Linked DNA regions of Homo sapiens. The protein of the gene in region 7 interacts with the protein of the main gene of each other region in a pairwise test. Each region holds a gene or a part of one and is shown on either strand. Other genes may lie near its edges.

Evidence for each region.
Region 1: the proteins of UBR1 (region 7) and DNAJB11 interact in a two-hybrid assay, tested with the Homo sapiens proteins (2 studies listed by BioGRID and IntAct).
Region 2: the proteins of UBR1 (region 7) and PTPRS interact in a two-hybrid assay, tested with the Homo sapiens proteins (one large-scale study listed by BioGRID and IntAct).
Region 3: the proteins of UBR1 (region 7) and CDC42 interact in a two-hybrid assay, tested with the Homo sapiens proteins (one large-scale study listed by BioGRID and IntAct).
Region 4: the proteins of UBR1 (region 7) and ANXA3 interact in a two-hybrid assay, tested with the Homo sapiens proteins (one large-scale study listed by BioGRID and IntAct).
Region 5: the proteins of UBR1 (region 7) and PKNOX1 interact in a protein complementation assay, tested with the Homo sapiens proteins (one study listed by BioGRID).
Region 6: the proteins of UBR1 (region 7) and HEXB interact in binary tests that used the Homo sapiens proteins (3 or more experiments, as listed by UniProt).

What each region holds. Positions count from the first base shown.
Region 1 is NC_000003.12:186,580,720-186,583,506, forward strand, and holds part of DNAJB11 (dnaJ homolog subfamily B member 11 isoform 1 precursor), read left to right. Parts: intron 1-651; coding exon 652-794; intron 795-1,275; coding exon 1,276-1,358; intron 1,359-1,996; coding exon 1,997-2,054; intron 2,055-2,787. UniProt on the Homo sapiens protein: As a co-chaperone for HSPA5 it is required for proper folding, trafficking or degradation of proteins.
Region 2 is NC_000019.10:5,218,813-5,222,312, reverse strand, and holds part of PTPRS (receptor-type tyrosine-protein phosphatase S isoform 1 precursor), read left to right. Parts: intron 1-92; coding exon 93-190; intron 191-1,059; coding exon 1,060-1,313; intron 1,314-1,959; coding exon 1,960-2,053; intron 2,054-2,158; coding exon 2,159-2,374; intron 2,375-2,845; coding exon 2,846-3,003; intron 3,004-3,500. UniProt on the Homo sapiens protein: Cell surface receptor that binds to glycosaminoglycans, including chondroitin sulfate proteoglycans and heparan sulfate proteoglycan.
Region 3 is NC_000001.11:22,087,209-22,090,708, forward strand, and holds part of CDC42 (cell division control protein 42 homolog isoform 1 precursor), read left to right. Parts: intron 1-2,734; coding exon of another isoform or gene 2,735-2,824; exon of another isoform or gene 2,825-3,500. UniProt on the Homo sapiens protein: Plasma membrane-associated small GTPase which cycles between an active GTP-bound and an inactive GDP-bound state. In active state binds to a variety of effector proteins to regulate cellular responses. Involved in epithelial cell polarization processes.
Region 4 is NC_000004.12:78,603,770-78,607,269, forward strand, and holds part of ANXA3 (annexin A3), read left to right. Parts: intron 1-507; coding exon 508-630; intron 631-3,500. UniProt on the Homo sapiens protein: Inhibitor of phospholipase A2, also possesses anti-coagulant properties. Also cleaves the cyclic bond of inositol 1,2-cyclic phosphate to form inositol 1-phosphate.
Region 5 is NC_000021.9:43,012,562-43,016,061, forward strand, and holds part of PKNOX1 (homeobox protein PKNOX1), read left to right. Parts: intron 1-506; coding exon 507-677; intron 678-3,500. UniProt on the Homo sapiens protein: Activates transcription in the presence of PBX1A and HOXA1.
Region 6 is NC_000005.10:74,695,233-74,698,732, forward strand, and holds part of HEXB (beta-hexosaminidase subunit beta isoform 1 preproprotein), read left to right. Parts: intron 1-1,460; coding exon 1,461-1,507; intron 1,508-1,763; coding exon 1,764-1,874; intron 1,875-3,500. UniProt on the Homo sapiens protein: Hydrolyzes the non-reducing end N-acetyl-D-hexosamine and/or sulfated N-acetyl-D-hexosamine of glycoconjugates, such as the oligosaccharide moieties from proteins and neutral glycolipids, or from certain mucopolysaccharides.
Region 7 is NC_000015.10:43,057,539-43,061,038, reverse strand, and holds part of UBR1 (E3 ubiquitin-protein ligase UBR1), read left to right. Parts: intron 1-924; coding exon 925-987; intron 988-1,213; coding exon 1,214-1,337; intron 1,338-1,846; coding exon 1,847-1,954; intron 1,955-2,609; coding exon 2,610-2,698; intron 2,699-3,500. UniProt on the Homo sapiens protein: E3 ubiquitin-protein ligase which is a component of the N-end rule pathway. Recognizes and binds proteins bearing specific N-terminal residues that are destabilizing according to the N-end rule, leading to their ubiquitination and subsequent degradation.

The DNA.
Region 1 (2,787 bases), on a different chromosome or scaffold from region 7:
ATTAGATGTTTGACTATTTAAACAGGCAAAACTAGGAATACATTTCTGCATATATATCAATTTTACATTCTTAGAGGGATCAGAATGTTTGATTGCAGTCAACTACAAAGAGATGGTCATTGTTTCTCTTCCTACATGTTAAAGTATCTGAATGGAGATAGCTCCAGAAAATAGTCCTGGATTGCATTTCCTGAAATAAGGAGACATTTTCAGTAGGTTAACCAGAGGATTGGATAGTAGCCACATACCAGGTTTTGAAGGTAGTGATTGTTCCTCAGGGGTTATGCTTTACACAGCTCGGATTTCCTAAAAGATAATCATTACATGAAGTACTTTAACTCAGTAGCATTTAGTTGTGGCTTAGAAATGCTGATATCATACACTTTATTTTTCGGTTCTCTTGTTTCTTACTCCCGTCTCTACTTCTCCAGCTTTAGAATTTGAGTCATTTAAGTATGTGTTTGCTTCATTCCTGTTTGGGGGCTGATTTGTACTCTTCAAAGAGTTTTGTCAGCTTTAGATCTCTGAGGGATAGATTGCCAGAGAAGGGGAAGTTTCAGTCCAGGCATATGTGCAGAGCCTTGATCAATTGAGGAAAGGAAAGGCTGTTTTACACAAGAGAGAAGCTGATGTTGTTTATGCACTTCCTAGGTAGTTAGAAACAAACCTGTGGCAAGGCAGGCTCCTGGCAAACGGAAGTGCAATTGTCGGCAAGAGATGCGGACCACCCAGCTGGGCCCTGGGCGCTTCCAAATGACCCAGGAGGTGGTCTGCGACGAATGCCCTAATGTCAAGTAAGTGAAAGCACCTTCTTTGTTCTACCAAGAAACACTTGTTAATTTCGTTCATCTAGTCAAACACTAATGGTCCATACTAGATCTTTCTCTGTCCCCTCCCCACTGCCATGTTCTGCAAAAGGATAGAGCAAAACAATGTACATTTTTTTCTGAAGTATTTGTAAATATCTCCTTTTATGTTTCTGAACTAACAAGCAGTGCCCTTTATTTCTGATACATTTTCAACAAGTATTAATGCTTCATTTTCTTCCTTCTTGTACTATTAGAGCAGCCTTATATGTTTATAAATGTATAGTAGCTTCACCCTGGATTTTAGCATATAGAAGATGTAAATGATTATCAGATAGTTTTGTCAAGTAGAGGCACACTACAGTCTTCCAAGAAAAAGCTCTGATAAAATAGGTATAACTTTATCTATATCTGATGTTTTGTTTATATTTTCATTATTTTTCTCCTCTTTTAATTCTCTTTACCTCAGACTAGTGAATGAAGAACGAACGCTGGAAGTAGAAATAGAGCCTGGGGTGAGAGACGGCATGGAGTACCCCTTTATTGGAGAAGGTGAAATATTGATATTTGATTTTTTGATTGTGATAACTTTTTGCTCTCTGCTTGTTTGTGAATACCTTTCACCCCTGCCTTACTCCATCTTAATGTTCACATAGTAAACGCATATATAATTTCCAACACTCTTCGGCCAATTTTAGGATATACAAAGCCTTTTGTTTACCTGAAGCAGTAGCATTACCGTTTATCCTTTGAATGTCATGGCCAAAAGTTATTATGAGGTAGCCTAAGTTTCATCAAAATTTAGGGTGTTCAGACCTTAATGAGTTTTAATTCAGCAATGAAAGAAGATATGTAACTCTAGTTGGCATTAATAAGATGCTCTCAGGACCTCACCTTTAGACTTAAGTTTAAAACTCTAAAAATAAAAAAAGCTTTAAGACTTAGGTTCAGGAGACCAGTGTATCATTCTTTGTTTAGGAAATGGGTCAAGTTATGTACTGCTGTATCTGAGGCAAAGGTGATGATTTCTAATAATCTGAAACTTGATACAACCAGGCAGAGACACTGCCGTCACAGATTTGACAGGTCAATGCCCAAAGTAGTGGATTAAAAAAATGTATCAGTTGCCAAATAGATTTGTGGTATTCAACTTGTATGATTTACAATATGCTGTAATCTGCTCTGACTAGGTGAGCCTCACGTGGATGGGGAGCCTGGAGATTTACGGTTCCGAATCAAAGTTGTCAAGTAAGTAATCTAATTTTAGAGGTCTTCTCAGATGAGTCAAATTATAGAGACGTAGGTGGCCACCAGAGCAGTTAGACTTTTTTCTCTGTTTCTTACCCTTATTACCCTAAACGATGATTTGTAACTCCTCTACAAGGCTGAAAACTTGGGGTTGGGCCCTAGGATTGAGCCCCAGTTATTTATTTACTTAGGACTTAAAAATGCAAAAGATGTTGAAAGGAAATAATTGATAAGTAAGGAGTTATAAAAGAGAAACAAACAAGATAGGGAGTCAAAGCTGAGATTTTAGCTGAAGAAGTATGGCACCATACAAGAATAGGAGACTTTTCCATAGACAGAACCTTCTACATAATATGCAGCTTCTGTAAAGAGAGCTTTTCTTTTGTGAGCTTCTCTTCAGCATGAAGTGCTGCTTAGACAGTTTTGCCTGGGACTCCAGCTTTCTTGATTACTGTTGCTCTCTTGTTACCACTTTGGAAACCAGTAATATCTCTGCCTTTGTAAGGAGTCATCAAAACAGGGTTCCCACCAGAATATGGAGAAATGGCCCCCCACTGTCTGGGACTTTGCCTTCCTGCACTCTTTAATCTCAGTGTTGTTTTCCCCAGCTTCTTTACCTACCTTGTCTTTATCATCACTTCTTAGAGAAACTGGAACATGTGTTGTTTCCTGAATAAACCTGACACCTTCCTTGTCTTTGCCAGAATTCCTTCTCACTCTATTTCCCCTTCCC
Region 2 (3,500 bases), on a different chromosome or scaffold from region 7:
CGCCCCACCCCACCCCGCTTCACGCCACCCAGTGCCAGGCACTCATGGGGCCTCTCTTCTGCTCTCTCCCTGCTCGGCCGCCTCCCCGGCAGTCTCGCCCAAGAACTTCAAGGTGAAAATGATCATGAAGACATCAGTTCTGCTCAGCTGGGAGTTCCCTGACAACTACAACTCACCCACACCCTACAAGGTGCGACTGCCCAGCCAGCAGGCAGGCAGGCAGGCAGGGTCAGGGGTTGTAGTTCAGCAGGGCTTAAGGCTCAGTTTGGAGTTGGTGTGAAGTGAGGGATCAGGGCTCAGTCAGAGATGGGTCTCAGCTAGGATTGAGGCTTAGTCAATACTGGGAATCAGACTTGGGGCCCAGCCTAGGATTGGAGATCAGCTGGAACTGAGGTTCAGTCAATATTGGGGATCAATGTTGGGCTCAGCCTTGGATTGTGGCTTAGCTGGGATTGAGGTTCAGTCTGGGATTAAGATTTAGTCCATATTGGAAATCAGAGTTGGGGCTCAGCCTTAGATCATGGCTTAGCTGGGACTGAGGCATAATCAGGATTGGGACTCAGAGTTGGTACTTAGCCTGAGGTCAGAGTTTAGTCTGGAGTTGGTGCCAAGTCTGGGATCGGGGGTCAGCCTGGGATTGAGGTTCAGTCTGAGATCAGGAATCAGTCTAGGATCAGGTCTCAGAGGTGGGTTTCCACCTAGGGTCAGCGCTCAGCTGGAATTCAGGATCAGTCTGGGTTCAGGGTTCAGTGGGATTGGGGCTCAGTCGGGACTGGGAATTCAGCATGGGATCAGGGCTCAGTCAAAGTGGGCTTCTACCTAGGATCAGGACTCAGCTGGAATTTAGGCACAGTCTGGGGTCAGGGTTCAGTGAGGTTGGGGCTCAGTCAGAGTTGGGGACTCAGCCTGGGATCAGGGATCAGTCAGTGTTAGATTTCTGCCTAGGGCAGGATTCAGTGGGATCAGGGCTCAGTCAGGGTGGGGGACTCATCCTGGAGCTGGGGCTCAGTCCATGGGCATGAGCCCACCAGGCCCTGCTGAGCTAGCCCTGGTCCGCAGATCCAGTACAATGGGCTCACACTGGATGTGGATGGCCGTACCACCAAGAAGCTCATCACGCACCTCAAGCCCCACACCTTCTACAACTTTGTGCTGACCAATCGCGGCAGCAGCCTGGGCGGCCTCCAGCAGACGGTCACCGCCTGGACTGCCTTCAACCTGCTCAACGGCAAGCCCAGCGTCGCCCCCAAGCCTGATGCTGACGGCTTCATCATGGTGTATCTTCCTGACGGCCAGAGCCCCGTGCCTGTCCAGTATGCTCACCCCCATGCTCCGGGTTCCTTGTCACCCCCATCAGCCTACTATATGGCTGGGGCAAGCCACGTGCCCTCTCTGTGCCTCAATTTCCTTGCCTATGAAACACAGACCCTATCAGCCCTAGTTCATGGGGTCATCCAAGATTCAATGCTTCTCATGGGTCATTGTCACTAAATGTGTCCTGTGTCTGCTCTTCTAGCATTTCCTGATACCCCATATGCCTGACCCTCCACTGGGTATTACTAGGGCCCCTGAAAGGATTTGGTTCTGGGCTTCCCAACTAGTGGGGAGGCAAAGCTGAGAGTCCCCAGTGGGGAGAGGAGCACTCTGCCTCAGAGGCAGAGAAGATTTAAGGGCTACAAGGTTATGTGGGCATTGAAGCTGGAGCTTTGAAGGATGTATAGGAGTTTAACAATGAGCATTACATGAAGTAAGCCTTCTACGCAGAAAGTACAGCATCATCCAAGGCCTGGAGGCCTGAGTCAGCAACTGTGGCGTTTGTGGATGGGGCATAGGGGAATAGGCTCATTGTATGAACAGAAGGGAAGACTCAGAGAAACGGCTTCCCCCGTTTGCCCCCATGAAGCATCCCTTGGTCATCCCTATCGACAGCCCCTCTGACTCTTTCCCATCTCCCTACAGGAGCTATTTCATTGTGATGGTGCCACTGCGCAAGTCTCGTGGAGGCCAATTCCTGACCCCGCTGGGTAGCCCAGAGGACATGGATCTGGAAGAGGTGAGGGCCTGGGGCCCAACCCGCAGGGCCCAGATGCATTCCAGTTTTCACGTGCTCTGTTGCTCCCAGCTGAGCTCTGAGCCACCCATGACTCTGTTCCCGCAGCTCATCCAGGACATCTCACGGCTACAGAGGCGCAGCCTGCGGCACTCGCGTCAGCTGGAGGTGCCCCGGCCCTATATTGCAGCTCGCTTCTCTGTGCTGCCACCCACGTTCCATCCCGGCGACCAGAAGCAGTATGGCGGCTTCGATAACCGGGGCCTGGAGCCCGGCCACCGCTATGTCCTCTTCGTGCTTGCCGTGCTTCAGAAGAGCGAGCCTGTAAGTCCTGAATGGTGTCCGCCCACATCCAGACACACCTCTGAATGAGGCAGACCCCATTCCCCAGGGCCCTGACCTCTGTGGTCAGTCACAGGCAGCTCCCTGTGGTCAGAGCTGGGCAGAGGGGAAGACTTGGGAGCGGAGGGATCCTGAAACGAAGGTTTCTTAGAGGAAGAGACCTTGGAGCTGGGGCGTTGAGGGGTGAGTAGGAGTTCAACAAAGAAAAAGCATCCCAGGATTTGCATGTGCAAAGGTCTGGAGGTACAGAAAGGAGAGTGGCTGGAGCAGAGAAGGGAATGGGGAGAGCAAAGATTGGCAGGGACCAGGTCACATAGGCCACCAGGGTCAAGGTTCTAGGAATATAGGAGGATCTAGAGCGGGGGAGAAACGTAGGTTCATGTTTGAGAAAGACCCATCTGGCCACTACAAGGAGGGTGGACACTGATGGAGACCCCCCTCCTTTCCCTGCAGACCTTTGCAGCCAGTCCCTTCTCAGACCCCTTCCAGCTGGATAACCCGGACCCCCAGCCCATCGTGGATGGCGAGGAGGGGCTTATCTGGGTGATCGGGCCTGTGCTGGCCGTGGTCTTCATAATCTGCATTGTCATTGCTATCCTGCTCTACAAGAAGTAAGCCCCATGTCCTCCCCGACTTGACTTGACAGCAGGGAGGGCTTCCTGGAAAAGGAGGGAGGAGTTGTCTCAGAGAATCATCACTAAAGGTCTCTGTTGTACACATGGGGAAACCGAAGTTCAGAGAGGTTAAGCCACTTGATCAAGGTCACACAGCATGGGAATGGCAGAGCTAGGGCTCAAAGCAGGCCAGTGGCTTGGCTTCTCCTCTTAACCCCTATCTTCAACTCAGCAAGATTTGGGGTAGAGGCTGCCTGTGTCCAGTTCAATGAGGATAGCAATTGTAGTGGCCCCATGGGGCACATCCCAGGGCTGAGATAAGCCTCCTTGTGGTGTCGATAGGCAGGGGGACAAACAGGAAATATGAGCACCATTTTCCAGAGGAGACCAAAGCTCACAGAGGTTAAGGAAGGCACTGAGAGTCACAGAACAAGCCCTTGATGGCCGGCACACCCTCACCTTTCTTCTTTTTTTCCCCCTTCTCACCTGTGTCT
Region 3 (3,500 bases), on a different chromosome or scaffold from region 7:
TCATCTGAATATGTCTGATCTTTTCTTGCCAATTCTGACAATTGATACTATACTGTTTCTTGGGCAATTCAACCAGGATAGGGAATTAGTCATAATAATTGAGACTTTAATGTCAAAGAAGGCAGCCATGGCTATTTCTGCCACAGTTCTCAAGCGTGCTTTATATAGTGTCCCTATTCCTATATTTTTGGAAGTATTCCTTCCTCATGCATTCCGGCCGTTTTTGAGTGATTTAATTGGAACTCCTTTTGTAGTTTGATGGGAAACTCAGATTTTGAAGATAGGGAGCAATGTTAGGGTATTTGGAATGGGACTTGTAACTGATGTGTATGGTTTAAACTTTTTCACCTTCATGATATCGCTGATTCCGTCCTTTGAGTACTGTTCTGGGGGCAAAGGAAAAGGTTATGGAAATAATTAGCACAAAAGTTTTATGTTCTACTGGTACTGGTGCTTTGAAGTTTGAACACTGAGCAGACATGCCTAATAGGGCAAGATTGAAGGGTGGAGGTTTCTAATAATTATATTAAACTCATTATATTTATGCTTATGTTTTCAGGTAATTCATTCATTTTTATTGTGTTTCTAAAAAACACTATTGGATTCTTAACTACGTGTATACTAGGGTAAATGGCATATATGATTACTTATTACATATGCACTAGGTATTTAGTTTATAGGGCCTAGTGCATAATTTAATAGTAAGTTTAGTACTTGGTTGGATATTTACAGATAAAACTTTTATGCTTAACTGGGATATCCCTCAAAATAACTTCGAGGCCTAGTATCAGATGATTTAAACATAATCTTCTAATCCTCGTTTTTTTGGGCAGTTTAGTGCTATTATAGAAGCAGTTATTTAAAAGTTTAGAAGATTTTACACCTTCTCATGCATAGCAACTGTTTTGAGAGTTTTAAAAAATGCCTGGTGCTTCTCTGTGTGTTTTAGTAACATTCCCAGAAAAGTGTGCCTGTGTGTGTATATTGGGGGAGACAAGGGAAAGTCATGTGTGAAACACTCATGTCCATGTTAGACACTAATTCTGTGTGCTTCTGATGCATACCTCTGTTCTCTAGATATGGGTTGCTTTGAGGGAAGACACATAGGCCCTGTGGATTCACTTTTAGGTTACTAGTGATGCTTTAGATAATTGGATGCTTTTAATGTAAGATTTTTACAGTATCAACAGGTGTATATAGTAAATCCGTTTGTAGAGAGTATGAAGTTTAAAAGGTCTTAGCAGGTACATTTTTCTTACCAGAGTTTGAAGTATGGAGAAGTCAAAAGAGGGGAAGTTAGAAAATGGGGTCTGTGGTTGTGTTTGGGAGCTAGAACTTTGAGGCTTACAGATTCTGTTTGTTGATTCCTCTAAAACTAAAGTCTTAATATAAACAGATGGTGGTCAAGCAAAGATTAGTTTTGTTTCATAGAGCATTTGTTGATCTTCGTCCATGGTAAGCAAGAAAGGAATTCCTTCTTGTTAAGGGATACACTCCAGTTTCTAATAGTCCTCCTCCTCTTTTTTTCCTTATAAAGTATATTTCCCTTTCTGTACTCCTTCCTTCCTTTTATATTTTACTGCCAGAGTTGGTTCCTAGATGTGCAGAAAGAATTGCAGTGGAATTTTAACTTTTATGTGGCATTTCTACTTTGTAAATGATGTAGAAAGAGGAAGGCTTTTTAACTTTTGCTGCTTTTAAAGAATTTACTGCTGTTTCTGATTTATTTTGTGTCTAATGTGACATGTGGGTACCAGTCCTGTGGGATGTCATGGATGGGGGCAGGGTGGAGGTGGGAACACTTGGGGTGGTCTGGGGTTGGCACTTACAATTGGAGCTGTGTTCTGGGACTTTTAGGACATATTTACTTGGGATCAAACTGATCAAACTAAAGAACATGTGAAACAACCTTGGGTGGTAAACTTGTGGCTTCAGATTTAGGTGATTTTAGGTGAGTCTGTAGACCTGGGTCCTAAGTACCACCAATGCTGAGTCACACTGTCATGTTGGAGTTTCTGGCTGAGGTGTAAGTGTATTTCTGTATCTTAATCCCCGTAAGATCTGAGAATATTCTTCGTTTTCACTCCATGCTTTATGCTCTGATACCCATGCAGACATCTTAAAGCACTGGACTGCTTGCTAAAACTCATTCTAGGACCCCATTCTTTGTTTTCTTATGACTTGGGTGGTGGTTACTTGCTCTAATAACATTGCTGAATAACTGAAGTGTATGCTGTTTTTAGAGTCTGTTCTTTAAAGTCCTTCTAGTTGGTACTGTTGCACAATTAACACTTTTTAAATGTCTGAACCTTTCCGTTCTGGGAAACCAGTTTACTCTGAAATCTTGATTAATCACATTCAGATATGTCATTGAACCTAGAAACACATAGCATGCCTGTTAGTCTGCTATTTGTGTCCTTCAGTTATTCAGGGGCTGAATTCACATAAGCCTGAAATTGTAATAGATTTATTTCCAAAATGTGTTAGAAGTCAACATATTGCATTTTAATAAAAATTGCTTTCCTGCTCAGTTAACCTTGCTTGAGGTGAAGTTTTTGGTCAGTTATCTACTCTCCTGGTTATAATGGGCTTAAGATCTAGCATTCTAGCGTTTTTCTTAAGGCACATTGCTTCTGTGAATTCAGCTCATTTAATCCGGACTGCTGTTGTACCTGCTAGTCTTTCTAATCCTCTAACCTGGCTGCTATTCTCTCTCCTCCCCTCTGTCTTGTAGAGAGGTCTGAAGAATGTGTTTGATGAGGCTATCCTAGCTGCCCTCGAGCCTCCGGAAACTCAACCCAAAAGGAAGTGCTGTATATTCTAAACTGTTTTCTCCTTCCCTTCTTTGCTGCTGCTTCCTGTCCCACTACTGTAGAAAGATCGTTTAAAAACAAAGGAATAAAACCATCCTGTTTGAAAGCCTCTGCGTCTTTTTACTCACCACCTTAGAGCAACCTCTGTATTAGTTTTTGATCAAGAATGCAATATCATATAAATTTTTTGTGATCAGTAGTCAAGTTGGACTTGTTTTAACGTTCTGCTGCTTGAGTTGCCTGATGCTCAGAGCTTTTTGGTTTGGATTACTATTGCAAAAGGGAACTTGGTCTGGCTTTAAGAATGTCCTCTTGGAGAAAATAACAAGAGTTTTAACACTTCTAGATCTTAGTTCTAGATGGAGAAAGTAACACAAACATCATTTTACTCTTATGATCAATTGTTAATTGTAATTGCATGACAAACCTTATGGAAAAGGGGTGACCTAGTAGAGTGTAATGGGGAAGGGAGGATTCTTTTCTGGTTTTCCTTTGTGCGGTGAAACTTTGTGTTGCTGTTGCTTTGGCTGTCTGTGCTGTAGTGGAGTATTTGTCAGTCTGGGGTGGGGAAGATATTGATGTATCTGCTACTGCTTTATGAGTTCATTTGTTACATTATCTTTTAAGAATAACATCCATTTAAACAGTTGACTTACAGTTTGTTAATGCTGAGATGTAAAGCTGCCA
Region 4 (3,500 bases), on a different chromosome or scaffold from region 7:
CTTACGTATCCTTGAACGTGGCGTTCTTTATTGCCCTAAACCTTCACGCCTGCTATTTCCTCTATAGGAAGTTTCTCTCCTCCCTACATGAACCTACTCCTTCCTCTTGTTGACTGTTTAGTCCTTGCTTAAATGTCACTTTCTCAGACTTTTCCTAATCCCTAATCTTTCTTAGGCCCCCCTGAAGTATGCTCCCATGGTACCCAATATTTTCAACATGTCAGACTGTTTTGCAATGGCTTACTTTCTTGCCTGTATTCTTTACAAAACTGGAAGCTTAACATGGGTATCTCATCTCTGCTTTGCAGCATTTAGCATGATGCTGTCACAGAGTAGGTGCTCAACAAATATTTCTTGAATAATGAATGATGAGTTTGATAATAAATGAAAAAGAATCACTATAGTTGAATATTTTGCACACCATTATCTGATTCTTATAAATATAGATCTCTATGTTGCTTTGTGACCAATGACATTTGTGTTGTGAACACCTGCATTCCTTAACAGGGTATTGGAACTGATGAGTTTACTCTGAACCGAATAATGGTGTCCAGATCAGAAATTGACCTTTTGGACATTCGAACAGAGTTCAAGAAGCATTATGGCTATTCCCTATATTCAGCAATTAAAGTAAGTCTACTTTTAAAAATAGCAAAACATATTTTGCCCTTCTCTACCCATCTCCTTACTCTTATATGCCTTAAAATATAAAGATATTTGACTTAGATTTCTCTCTCCTTGTCAATGTATAAATGTGTTGTCTGAGCTTAAAATAGTAGCAGCAAAATATCCCTTATTTTCAGCTCTAAAATCCCAGGCATATAATAGACACTCAATATTTTTTTAGGTGTACTAGCCACTAATTTTTCTTCTTTTGTGAATTACATATGCAAGTTGTTTACCTGTTTTTTATATTGCACTGTTTTTATTTATTTCAGTCTTTATGACAATGTAAGAAAAGAAAAATACGTATTTTAAATTTCCTCTCTGTTTTACATGAGACAGCATGGTTCTGCAGCTTAGAGTGCTTTTCATTTCAGTATATAGGAAACTTTCTCATTTTATTTAACAGCTGTATATCATTCCATTGTTTGTATATTTGTACCCACCACAACAAACAGAGGCTTCCAGTTTATTGCTATTGCAAACAATGTTGTATAATGCATACACAACTTCATCAGGTACGAGTGTATCTTTGGGATGAATTCTCAGAAGTAGGATTTCTGAGACAGATATAAATGCATTTTAAATTTTGACAAATATTACTAATTGAATTCCATTTTGCAATTCCATGAGGAATGTATGAGAACTTCTTTCTCCATAGCTTTGGCACAGAGGGTATTTTCAAACTTTTAGGTTTTTAAAACATTTTTTAGAGATGGGGTCTTGCTGTGTTGCCCAGGCTGAAGTGCTGTGGCTGTTCACAGGTGCGATCATAATACATTGTAGCCTAGAACTCCTGGGCTCGAGCAGTCCTCTTGCCTTAGCCTCCAAGTAGCTGGGACTATAGGTAAACTTTTGGGTTTTCATAATCTGATAGGTGAGGAATTGTATCTCAGTGTAGTTGTAATATACATTTTTCTTAGTATAAGTAAGGCTGAATATATTTTCATGTTTGAAATAACATTTGTATTTCTCTTTCTGTGATCTGTCTTTTTACATTCTTTGTCCACATTCTTTTGGGTTTTTGTTCTTTTTGGTCAGTTTCTAAGACGTTTTTCACATAAGGTAGATTAGCCTTTTGTCTGGTCATATTTTCCCAGTCCGTTCTTTGTCCTTTGACTTGGCCAAAAGTATTTTTTTCCAAGCAGAGGTTGCACATCTTATTTAATTAAATTTATCAATCTTTCACAGTATTTTAGTTTTTAAAAAATCTGGTCCCTTCTGTTTCTTTCATTCTGGATGAGAATCTTCCTAAAATGGGCTCCTTCCTTTCTCTTTTAAAGCATGAAACCCATTTTCATTGTTTTCAGATCTCAGTTGATATATTATACATAGAAACTTCAAATAAATTACAAATTATTTGAATTAATAGGGCAGTAAGCCTGACAAAAATTGTACAAGAGGCTTCTGTACCTTAAGCTCGTGGTTCAAAAGTCATAGTCCCAACAGGAAGATGGCAACTAGTTAGTGGAGAACTAAGGGGCTAGCCCCACACCTGCTCAGTAGCCTTCCATTGATTTACTTTTCTACCTTGATGCTCCAGACCACATATGAAAGTCTCTAGTAAATGAGTGATAGAGAGTGTTAGTCCAAGCTGGTTCCCTGGAACAAAGTGGAAGCTGGGGTTGGTGAGTGGAGCAATCCACTGTCCTTGCCTCCAAGGCCACACTGACCAGGGGAAAAGACAGAGTCAGGGCTGCCTTCGCAGAGGACTTGCAGGCTATGCAGACCTCTCCGTCTCTTTGCTACTCCATCTACCCTTGAATGTCTCGAGGAAATCAGCACTAGAGAGTATTGGACCCAGGTGAACTCTCCAAGGTCTAAGCTGAGACTTGGGGCCTAGAAGGTGATCCAGGATGAAGAGGGAAGCAGCAGCCAAGCAGAGTGTTTGCTCTGAGTGCTGAGGGTCTAAAACTGGGAATGGAGTCCATGCTGATTAGACCCCCTAAGCTGTGGATCATTATGCACCATGCACATCCTGATCCTGGGTAGCAGCACCCTCTCTCAAGCCCCTACAAGGCTGGAGCACTACCTCTGTGGGGGAGCTTACACTCAGCGATGTCCCCTGGGGACACCTGGCTTAGACCACATTCCAGTGTCCCTGCCAGCAGCTGGAGTCTTTGGTCCAACCTTCGCTATGGCCCTACCCACAATAGCCACCCTTGAACAGGCACAAATATTAGCCTGGGTCTTTCTGCAGCTATCTTGGGAAGGTTTCTGCCTCTGACTTTACAAATGGCCTTTGAATGAATGAATGAATGAATGAACATCAATCAGTCAACTAGATTCATTCACTAAAATCTCTCTCTCTCTCTTTTTAATCAGAGTTTTTGTTTTTGCACTAAACTTTTACAGAAAGAGATGCTGAGATGCATGCATAAGTTGAAATCAGGAACTTACTCAAAAAGGCAATTCTCAGACTGTGCCTGGGACTTAGCACAAATTGCATCAACTGCTCACACTCAATTCTATTTGAATCAGTCCTGACACATCACAATAGTTTCAATCATCAGAGGAAGATTCAATAACATTAACCATGTTGTAGCTACTAAGGCAGAAAAATAGACTCACACATTTTCTAAAGATTGTCAGTAACAAGGTTGAGACATAAAGAGGGCTTTCAGTTCACCCTCAGCAAACCAGAAAATTAAATTAACCAGTGGCTCTCCGTTCCCCAGTGGTCTGGGTAATTGAGGCTTATTGTATTAGAAAACATTTAAACTATTTGTAGTTTGATAGAAAAGAAAAATCCATCACTGAAAACTTCAGTTTGCAGTTTGAAATAGTACAAGATTTCTTTATTTCTACCACCTAACACATATTATTAAGTAATCTCA
Region 5 (3,500 bases), on a different chromosome or scaffold from region 7:
TGTCTCAAAAAACAAAACAAAACAAAATGATATAACTTTTAGAAAAATCGCAAGAGAAAATCTTGAGGATCTAGAACTAGGCAAAGACACCAAAATGGAACTTTATGAAAATGTAGCACTAGCCTAGGGTGAGTGTGGATGTATCACTATTTGTGGATGTAGAAACAGGAGTAGATGAGGGTGAGTCACTTGTCCTGCCTGCCACAGAGCGAATCAGTGGAAGGGCTAGGCTTTGGCTCACAGCCCACACACCTAGCACTGGGATGCACCGAGGTCACCACCACGCGCCTTTGTCTTCCCTGCACACCAGATGCAGCCAAACACCAAAGCCCAGGTCAGTGGCACCGGAACAACACATCAGTTTAGAGGATTTCTGATGTTATTCCACTTTGGTTATTGGCAGTAGAGATGGTTCTATCTAATGACTAAGAACTGGTATGTAGGATCATGATAACTTACAATAATGCCACCTTTTTCTCTGAAAGTCTTCATTTTCTCTGCTCTAGATGGTAAAAGCAATCCAGGTTTTGCGCATTCATCTTCTTGAGCTGGAAAAGGTTAACGAACTCTGCAAAGATTTCTGCAGTCGATACATTGCTTGTCTGAAAACAAAAATGAACAGTGAAACTCTGTTGAGTGGAGAGCCTGGAAGCCCGTACTCACCAGTGCAGTCCCAGGTACTTACATTTGGGGGTCTCGCTTTCCCTCTCTGCCACTGTGAACATCTGCATTGAGTCATGAGACCACCAGCTCTTTCAGAATTCACTGGGTCATCTTTATGACTTTCTACAAGAAGGACCCTCTAGGTCTCTGACCCCAGCCTGGTTTGGGAATGAACTCCCTCAGATTATGAAGTGAGTCCTCAATCTGCATACTGGGCCCCCGGTCCCATGTTTATGGAAGGCACAATTCCATTCATTTCTTTCTTTTATTTCTTCTGAAAATATTTTACTTATTCTTTTGAAAAATTGTGTAAAATACACATAATATAAAATTTACCATCTTAGCTATTTTAAAATTTACAGTTCAATGGTGTTAAGTTTATTCACATTGTTGGGCAACCATCAACACCATCCATCTCCAGAACTTTCTCATCTTCTCAAACTCAAACTCTGACCCCATTAAACACTCATTCCGGATTCCCCCTCCCCTAGCCCCTGGAACCCACCGTTCTACTGTCTGTCTCTGTGAATTCGATGACTCCAGGTCTCTCATGTTAAGCGGAATCGTACAGTGTTTGTCCTTCTGGATCCTTTGCTTGTTTCATTGTGCAGAATGCCTGGAGGGTTCATCCATGCGGAAGCACTATTGTGTTTTAGCCATTCTGATGATATGTAGTGATATTAATATTTCTTTGTGGTTTTAATTTTCATTTCCCTGATGGCTAATAATGTTGAACATTATTATACCCTCTGTGTATTTTCTTTGATAAAATGTCTGCTGCTTATGTCTTTTGCCTTTTTTTTTTTTTTTTTTTTGAGACAGAGTCTCGCTCCATCACCCAGGCTGGAGTGCAGTGGCGCGATCTCGGCTTACTGCAAACTCCGCCTCCTGGGTTCATGCCATTCTCCTGCCTCACCCTCCTGAGTAGCTGGGACTACAGGTGCCTGCCACCACACCCGGCTAATTTTTTGTATTTTTAGTAGAGACGGGGTTTCACCGTATTAGCCAGGATGGTCTCGATCTCCTGACCTCGTGATCCGCCCGCCTTGGCCTCCCAAAGTGCTGGGATTACAAGCATGAGCTACCACGCCTGGCCGTCTTTTGCGCATTTTTTAGTTGGATTTTTTTTTAACTTCTGAGTGTTGAGAGTTCTTTGCTTATTGTAGATACTAGTTCTCTGTTGGATATGTGGTTTGCAAGTGTTTTCTCCAAGTCTATAGTAGCTAAGTATTTTTCTCATCCTCTTAACAGGTCTTTTTCAGAGCCAGCCTTTTTAATTTTAATAAAGTTCAATTTATTAGGTTTTCCTTTTATGGATCATTCTTTTGGTGTCAAGTCTAAGAACTCTTTGCCTAACCCTAGGTCCCAAAGACTTCGTCTTAAGTTTTTTCCTAAAAGTTTTTAAATAGAGACAAGGTCTCACTATGTTGCCCAGGCTTGTCCCAAACTCCTGGGCTCAAGTGTGAACCACCATGCCTGGCCTCAAAAGTTTTATAGTTGTCCATTTTGCATTTAAATCCGTGATCCATTTTGAGTGGATTTCTCTATAGAATAACTCTCAAAGCTGGGCACATTGTTTCCTCCCACCCTGTGATTCCTTTTCAAAATTGTTTAGCTGTTCTGGTTCCTTTGCCTGTCCACATAAATTTTAGAATGCTCTTGTCTAGAGCTACAAAAACATCTTGCTTAGATTTTGATAGGAATTGTATTATACCTGTATATCAATCTGGGGAGAATTGACATCTTTACTGCATTAAGTCTTCCAGTCCACAGGTATGGCATGTCTCTCCATTGATTGACAACTCTGATTTCATTCATCAGTGCTTTGTAGTTTTTGACACATAAGTTGTGTACATGCGTTTTTAGAATTATACCCAAGCATTTCCTTTCCTGGCCTGTGCCATCTCGAATAAGAGTGGCAAGAGCAGACATCCTTGCCTTGTCACCGCCTTAGGGGACACCTTTCAGTCGCTCACTGTCGATGATGTTGGTTGCAGGTTTCTTTCTAGATGCTCTTTATCAAGTTAAGGAGGTTATCCTATATTGCTTTTTTTCTGAGAGATTTTATTTTGTTCAATTTTGTTAAATGCTTTTCCAGCATTGATTGATATGATTATGTGATTTTTCTTCTTTAGCCTGTTAATAATGGACATTACATGGATTGGTTTTTTGAATATTGAACAAGCCTTCTATTCCTGGAATAAACTCCACTTGGCCATGGCACATAATTCTTTTCATATGTATTCTTGAATTCTATTGGCTAATATTTTGTTCAGCATTTTTGTCTATATTTGTAAGGGATATTGGTGTATAGTTTTGTTTTTCATACTGTCTTTGGTTTTGGTATCAAAATACACAAACTTACATAAAATGGATTGGGAAGTATTCCCTCCTCTTATTTTTTTCTGGAGATTATGTAGACTTGGTGTTATTTCTTAAATGTTTGAGAAATAGAATTGATCTATTTCACCTAAGATGTTAAATTTAGGAGTTTAGAGTTGGTCTAGTATTCTCTTCATAGCCTTTTGGTGTTAGCAGGGTCTATAGTGATCTCTTCCTGTTTTATTTCTGATATTGATCTTTTGTGTCTCTATTTTTTTTTTAGTCAGTCTTTCTAGAGGTTTATGTAATTTTCAAAGAACAGTATTTTGTTTTATTGATTTTTTTGGTTGTTTTTCTGTTTTCAGTTTCATTGATTTCACCTTGATCTTTATTATTTCCTTTCTTCTGCTTTCGGTTCATGATGTTCCTCTTTTTCTAAGATCTTAAGGTGGAAGCTGGGATGATTGATTTGACTAGCTTAACTTTTATTACAGCCTAATTAATGTGGCAGGCTT
Region 6 (3,500 bases), on a different chromosome or scaffold from region 7:
TTGCTCTGTTGCCCAGGCTGGAGTGCAGTGGTGAAATCTCAGCTCACTGCAAGCTCCGCCTCATGGGTTCATGCCATTCTCCTGCCTCAGCCTCCCGAGTAGCTGGTACTACAGGCGCCTGCCACCACGCCTGGCTAATTTTTTGTATTTTTAGTAGAGACAGGGTTTCACTGTGTTAGCCAGGATGGTCTCGATCTCCTGACCTCGTGATCCACCTGCCTTGGCCTCCCAAAGTGCTGGGATTACAGGCGTGAGCCACTGCGCCCAGCCAAGAGACGCTTATTGATGTTTGTTCTGATCCATACCAAAATAAAGAACTCTAGCAAGGCTGGGCACGGTGGCTCACGCCTGTAATCCCAGCACTTTGGGAGGCCGAGGTGGGTGGATCACTTGAGGTCAGGAGTTGGAGACCAGCCTGGTCAACACAGTGAAATCCCATCTCTACTAAAAATACAAAAATTAGCCGGGCATGGTGGTGCACGCTTGTAGTCCCAGCTACTTGGGAGGCTGAGGCAGGAGAAGTACTTGAACCCGGGAGGTGGAGGTTACAATGAGCCGAGATCGCGCCACTGCACTCCGTCCTGGGTGACAGAGCAAGACTCCGTCTAAAAAAAAAAAAAAAAAGATAAAACCACTCTTGCGAGTATGCAGTGACTAGATTTCTAGTCCAAGAAGTCCATATTTTCTGTTTACCATCAGACTTTCAGAGTAATGTACTCTAAACTGATCATTATTGAACGTAATGTCACTTAACAGAAACTTTCAGAGTTATTCTTCCCAGCATGAACCTGTACTTGACGAGGTTGGAGAGACAGGAAGGCGTAGCAAAGATGACTGAACTGTTCTTAGGTTAAAAATTCCCTGGCTATATAGCTGTCAGCTAGAATGAGGAATCTGAATAAAGTCAAGGCCAGTTAGAAGAATTAGCCTGTCAACTAGTATATTAAGGGAATAATCCACTTGAGTAAAAAATGTTCAGAAGGTAGTCTTTGCAGCTATAAGTAAAATGCTGTATATTGTAAATTGGCCTTTATTTATAGTTTCATGGTTTTTCCAGCCATTTTTCCCTGTTGCATTTAGATACCTTCTAAAAGTGACTATATTTGATTATAAAAATTCTTTCTCATGATGCCATAAATTTATTAAGGAACCAGTATTTTATTAAATTACTATTCTTCTTTTGTCTATATTGAAACAACCCCCAGGGTATGGGTACAATGAAGTAAAGCACTTTTATTAGATGAGTAGAGAAGTGCAATGGATTTTTTTTTAATTTGGCTTTGATTTTAGAAATTATGGTAGAGGGTGTAGGTATAACAATATATTTTAGAGGATAGAGGTATAACACTATATTCAATTATATTTGCCTTACCTGGTTATGAGTCTGTTTGAATAATATAACTTTTATCATCTCAATTTGTTGATTTATAAATTAATGCAATAAATTTTACTTTCCTCAGGTTTAGAGACCTTTAGCCAGTTAGTTTATCAAGATTCTTATGGAACTGTAAGTATGATTATTATATGTTACTAAAAATTGTTAGACAAATTGCTAATAGAAAAAAATGTAACCTGTTTAGCTATTGCTTCCTGAAGATTTCATTTCCCCAGATATTTGTCTTAGCCGGTAAATGTAAATTTCATACATTTTTGTTGTTCTAAATTAATATTTTATGAAATGCTTGTATAAATAGATTTAGTCTTCATTGAGTTCAAGACAACAGAAAATTCTAAAACTAAATCAAAATTTTATTTTGTCATAGTTCACCATCAATGAATCCACCATTATTGATTCTCCAAGGTTTTCTCACAGAGGAATTTTGATTGATACATCCAGACATTATCTGCCAGTTAAGATTATTCTTAAAACTCTGGTAAGTAATTACTTCATTCTAATCTGTTGTCTATTCTGAAGATGTCTCCTTTATGTTGTAACTTTATGTTGGTTACTATTGTGTAGTTTGGAACAGGGGAATTTGTATAAGCACTGGGCATTCTTTCCTCAGTTCCTAGGGAAGTGTATTTCCTCAGCTGTGACGTGGAGGTCCCCTTGAGAATCACCCTCCTGTTTTCAGTGCGAGAGCCACGTATAACATGTATTTAGCCAAGACTGTTAAGAGAAGGACAGTTTAAACACTGCCCATTGGCCCTTTACATATACTCCCATTTGTCAAATCATGTGTCTAGACTTTTGATTAGGAATACATGGCCACCCAGGTGCGGTGGCTTACACTTGTAATCCCAACACTTTGGGAGGCTGAGGCAGGTGGATCACCTGAGGTCAGGAGTTCGAGACCAGCCTGGCCAACATGGCCAAACCCCATCTCTACTAAAAATACAAAAATTAGCCAGGCGTGGTAGCGTGCGCCTGTAATCCCAGCTACTAGGGAGGCTGAGACAGGAGAATTGCTTGAACCCTCCCCGGGTGGAGGTTGCAGTGAGCCGAGATCGCACCACCGCACTCCAGCCTGGGCGACAGAGCAAGACTCTGTCTCAAAAAAAAAAAAAAAAAAAGGAATACGTGGCCACCACACCATACTTCTAGTTAGTGCCATTTAAATTTTGTGACCACCTCTTACTTTTTTTGTAAGTGGCATTAGAAAGGAGTCCGGGAGCTCCTTTATACCTAGGGAACTATTCCAAAGGAATATGGAACCTCAGGGGTGGTATGGGTTAGGAAGAAGGTTGACAATAACTGTTTTCTCCTATGGGCTTTTTTTTATTGGTTAATCCCCACCATCACCTGCCAATTTGTAGGGGTGGGGAGGTTTCCTCCCATGTTTTTTTGCACCTTCACTTGATCATTATGATGAAACTATGCTATTTAAAAATTATTATTATTATTATTTATTTATTTATTTTGAAACGGAGTTTCGCTCTTGTTGCCCAGGCTGGAGTGCAATGGCGCGATCTCGGCTCACTGCAACCTCTGCCTGACAGGTTCAAGCAATTCTCCTGCCTCAGCCTCCTGAGTAGCTGGGACTACAGGCATGCACCACCACGCCCAGCTAATTTTGCATTTTTAGTAGAGACGGGGTTTCTCCATGTTGAGGCTGGTCTCGAACTCCTGACCTCAGGTGATCCACCTGCCTTGGCCTCCCAAAGTGCTGGGATTGCAGGTGTGAGCCACCGTGCCCAGCCAAAAATTATTATTATTATTATTATTTTTTTTTCTTTTTAGTTGAAGTCTTGCTCTGTCGCCAGGCTGGAGGGCAGTGGTGCAATCTTGGCTCACTGCAACCTCCGCCTCCCGGATTCAAGCAATTCTCCTGCCTCGGCCTCCCGAGTAGCTGGGATTACAGGTGCACACCACCACACCCAGCTAATTTTTGTATTTTTAGTAGAGACAGGGTTTCACCATGTTAGCCAGGATGTTCTCAATCTCCTGACCTTGTGATCCGCCTGCCTCAGCCTCCCAAAGTGCTGGGATTACAGGTGTGAGCCACCACGCCTGGCCTAAAAATTATTTTTACATTTACATTAATACTCTGAATTTTTTC
Region 7 (3,500 bases):
AAGCTGATTGAGCTCGAGTTTATGTAACTATTCTTGTCCAATCTGTTCTTTTAACAATCTCTTATGGCCTGGCTTTTTGTGCTTTTTTTTTTTTTTTCTGTAATGGCAACCTTACTGGTGTAATTAGTAGTCCAAATATATTTGGATAGTTCTTATGCTTATGTACTAAGCAGCTAAAGAGGGAATATTACAGGATGGTTAAAAGTACAGACTCTGGAGATGAAATGCTTGTCATGGATCTCTGAATCTGTCACTTGCTAACTTTCTGATTGGGGGACAAATTAACTTCTGTCTTATTTTTCTTTTTATCATCTGTAAAATGTGGTATACCTTCTTCATAGGGTCATTGTAAAGGTTAAATGAGGAAGACAGTGCTTCCTGACTTTTTTCACATGGCACATATAGAAAATGATGAATTTTTACAGGTGGGTAAAAGAATGAGCTACAAGGAAATCCTACATAGACCTTGCATGACCGCCTCCAGGACTGGTGGAATCAGTAGTCCAGCTATACTTCCCGCTCGTTAATGGGCCACAAGTATATCATAGGATACATGTTGAAGAGCTGTGAATTCATTCATGAAAAATATTTTAAATACATAGCAGAAGTTTAGAAAGCCTGAGTCATTGTTTCATATAAGTAGAGAGGACACTGCAGTAACTAAAGAACTGCCATTCCTGCCAGGCAAGAAACTCAGCATCTTAAACTATAGACTGTCTGTCCTAGAGGTATTAAAGTTTTCATACTTCATAAAGGTGTTAAACATTTGCATCTGTCTTTCAGATATTGTTCCGGTATCTTACAACTTTTAGTCAACACGCGATTAGAGCTCAGTTAAGAGCTCATTAAGTCTTTGGGCTACATATTGCTTATTGATTGTGGTTATCATTTCACTACCTAATTCTCACTTTTGTCTATAATTAGGGTCGTCGGGCTGTTAAAGCGGGAGCTTATGCTGCTTGCCAGGAAGCAAAGGAAGATATAAAGGTAACTTTCTGAATTAGGGGGAAAAAGAGAAGTTAAAGATGAATGTACATTACAAGAGCCCAAGTAGAATAATTTGAGTGATGATGTCGTTGAAGTGGTTTGGGGCACCTAGATGCAGAGATTTGGAACTGGCAGGGTTATGTGATTTCTTCATTTGAAGTATAAATCCCTTAACTAAAAGCAAATTTTAAATGCTATTTTTTTGGTTCGTTCCCTTCATTTGTAGAGTCATTCAGAAAATGTCTCTCAACATCCACTTCATGTAGAAGTATTACACTCAGAGATTATGGCTCATCAGAAATTTGCTTTGCGTCTTGGTTCCTGGATGAACAAAATTATGAGCTATTCAAGTAAGCATACCTCCTGTTTTTCTTGTTTCTGATAAAATACTATGTGTTTTATAGCCACAAATTTTAAAATGTCATTGAGTATGAAATAAAGTTTTTCTTTTTTTTTTTTTTTTGGTTTATACACTTTGATTAATTTTCAGGGTTGCATTTCAAATGTATAATATCTTAGGATATTATTTCAAGTGCATAGTATCAAATAATATCTTTTTATTGGCTGTTGAGTCTTTGATGTTGACAGAATTATTCTTTGCCTCAAATGTGGGAGGATTAATATTATTCTTTTCACATGTTATAGGAAATGTACTTTTAGGAGAAATGTTATAAGAATAAAAATTATGGCTGAGTACAGGGGCTCATGTCTGTAATGCCAGCACTGTGAGAGGCTGAGGTGGAAGGATCGCTTGAGCCCAGGAGTTCAAGACCAACCTGGGCAACAGAGTGAGACTCATCTCTATTTAAAAAGAAAAAGAATACAAGTTGTGTAACTGTGTGACCTCTTTTGTTTGTAGGTGACTTTAGGCAGATCTTTTGCCAAGCATGCCTTAGAGAAGAACCTGACTCGGAGAATCCCTGTCTCATAAGCAGGTTAATGCTTTGGGATGCAAAGCTTTATAAAGGTAAGTAGACATTTGCTTATGCTGTTTGTCAGGAAGCAAAGGAAGATTATGACCTTAAAGTGGAGCTGTAATATCTTTTGTTTATTAAATTAGTTATTAAATCTGTAATCTTGATTGATAAGATACTACATGTGAATATAAAGTTTAACCAGTCAGTATGTATTCTTTGGTGTTAAAACCCAGGGATGTTGTCTTTTAATTATAGAGTCTTTTCATTTAGTGAGAGCCAGTCAAAAAGAGTATATATGTATGTGTCTATACATGTATCTATATATTCAGGTAGTAGTGCCATTATCGAGTAGCGAAAAAGATGCTATTTTCATTGTAAAAATCTAAATGAAGAACAAAACGTAAAAGGCTAAAAGCATGGAGAAGGAAAAGTACAGTGAAATAGAAAAAGAATGAAAAGGTTGGGAGAGAGTAAATTGAAGTGTAAGATGAAGTGGTGGGAGGGGTGCAGAAAAAGAGGGAAAAGGCAATATATGTGTGTATTTTAAATTCCAGTTATTAAATATTAATACAATAAATACTATTTGAGGTCTGTTTGCATGTGAAGTAATTTTATAATATTCTGCCACTCTAATAGCCAGAATGTTTTTGGTTTTTGCCTTGGTGATTCTCCTCATTCCCCCACCCTCCCCAAAATAATCTATAGGTGCCCGTAAGATCCTTCATGAATTGATCTTCAGCAGTTTTTTTATGGAGATGGAATACAAAAAACTCTTTGCTATGGAATTTGTGAAGGTAATTATTTATAAATTAGATATCAATAAATAGAAATAGGCAGTTTTTATAAATGAATTAATAGAAACAGGGATAATTATGAATCAAAAATTAAATGTTATGATTTATTTCTTTGTCAAAAGTTTGTTCTTGGCCCTGCGGGTTGGCTCACGCCTGTAATCCCAGCACTTTGGGAGGCTGAGGTGGGTGGATCATTTGAAGTCAGGAGCTCGAGACCAGCCTGGCCAACACGGTGAAACCCCGTCTCTACTACAAATACAAAAATTAGCCAGGCATGGTGGCAGGTGCCTGTAGTCCCAGCTACTCAGGAGGCTGAGGCAGGAAAATCACTTGAACCTGAGAGGCAGAGGTTGCAGTGAGCCAAGATCGCGCCACTGCCCTCTAGTCTGGGCAACAGAGTGAGACTCCCATCTCAAAAAAAAAAAAAAAGTTCGTTCTCATACGTTATATAAATATTTTCACAAATGTTATTTGCTAGTATAGAAACAGCATTCTTAGAGAAGAGATAGGTGGAAAATGACCCACTGACCCAGAGCAAAGGGAGGTTATCACATTCACATATGCATTCAGTCTTCCTAATCATTTATTTGCCTGTTAGTAAAATTACAATAAGAATAGAAGTGACTAATTGAAAAGTATAGCAGGAAAGAAGAACAGATGTGTATGCTAAAGTGGGGGGCAGGAATTAGGTGGCCAAGAGTTCTACTTAGTTTTTGGAAGCTAAAGCATAAGGCTAAAATTTACAGCTTTTTAATGTTTTATTAATCTATCGTGTATCTCTTACCTTACTGTATCTTTTTGT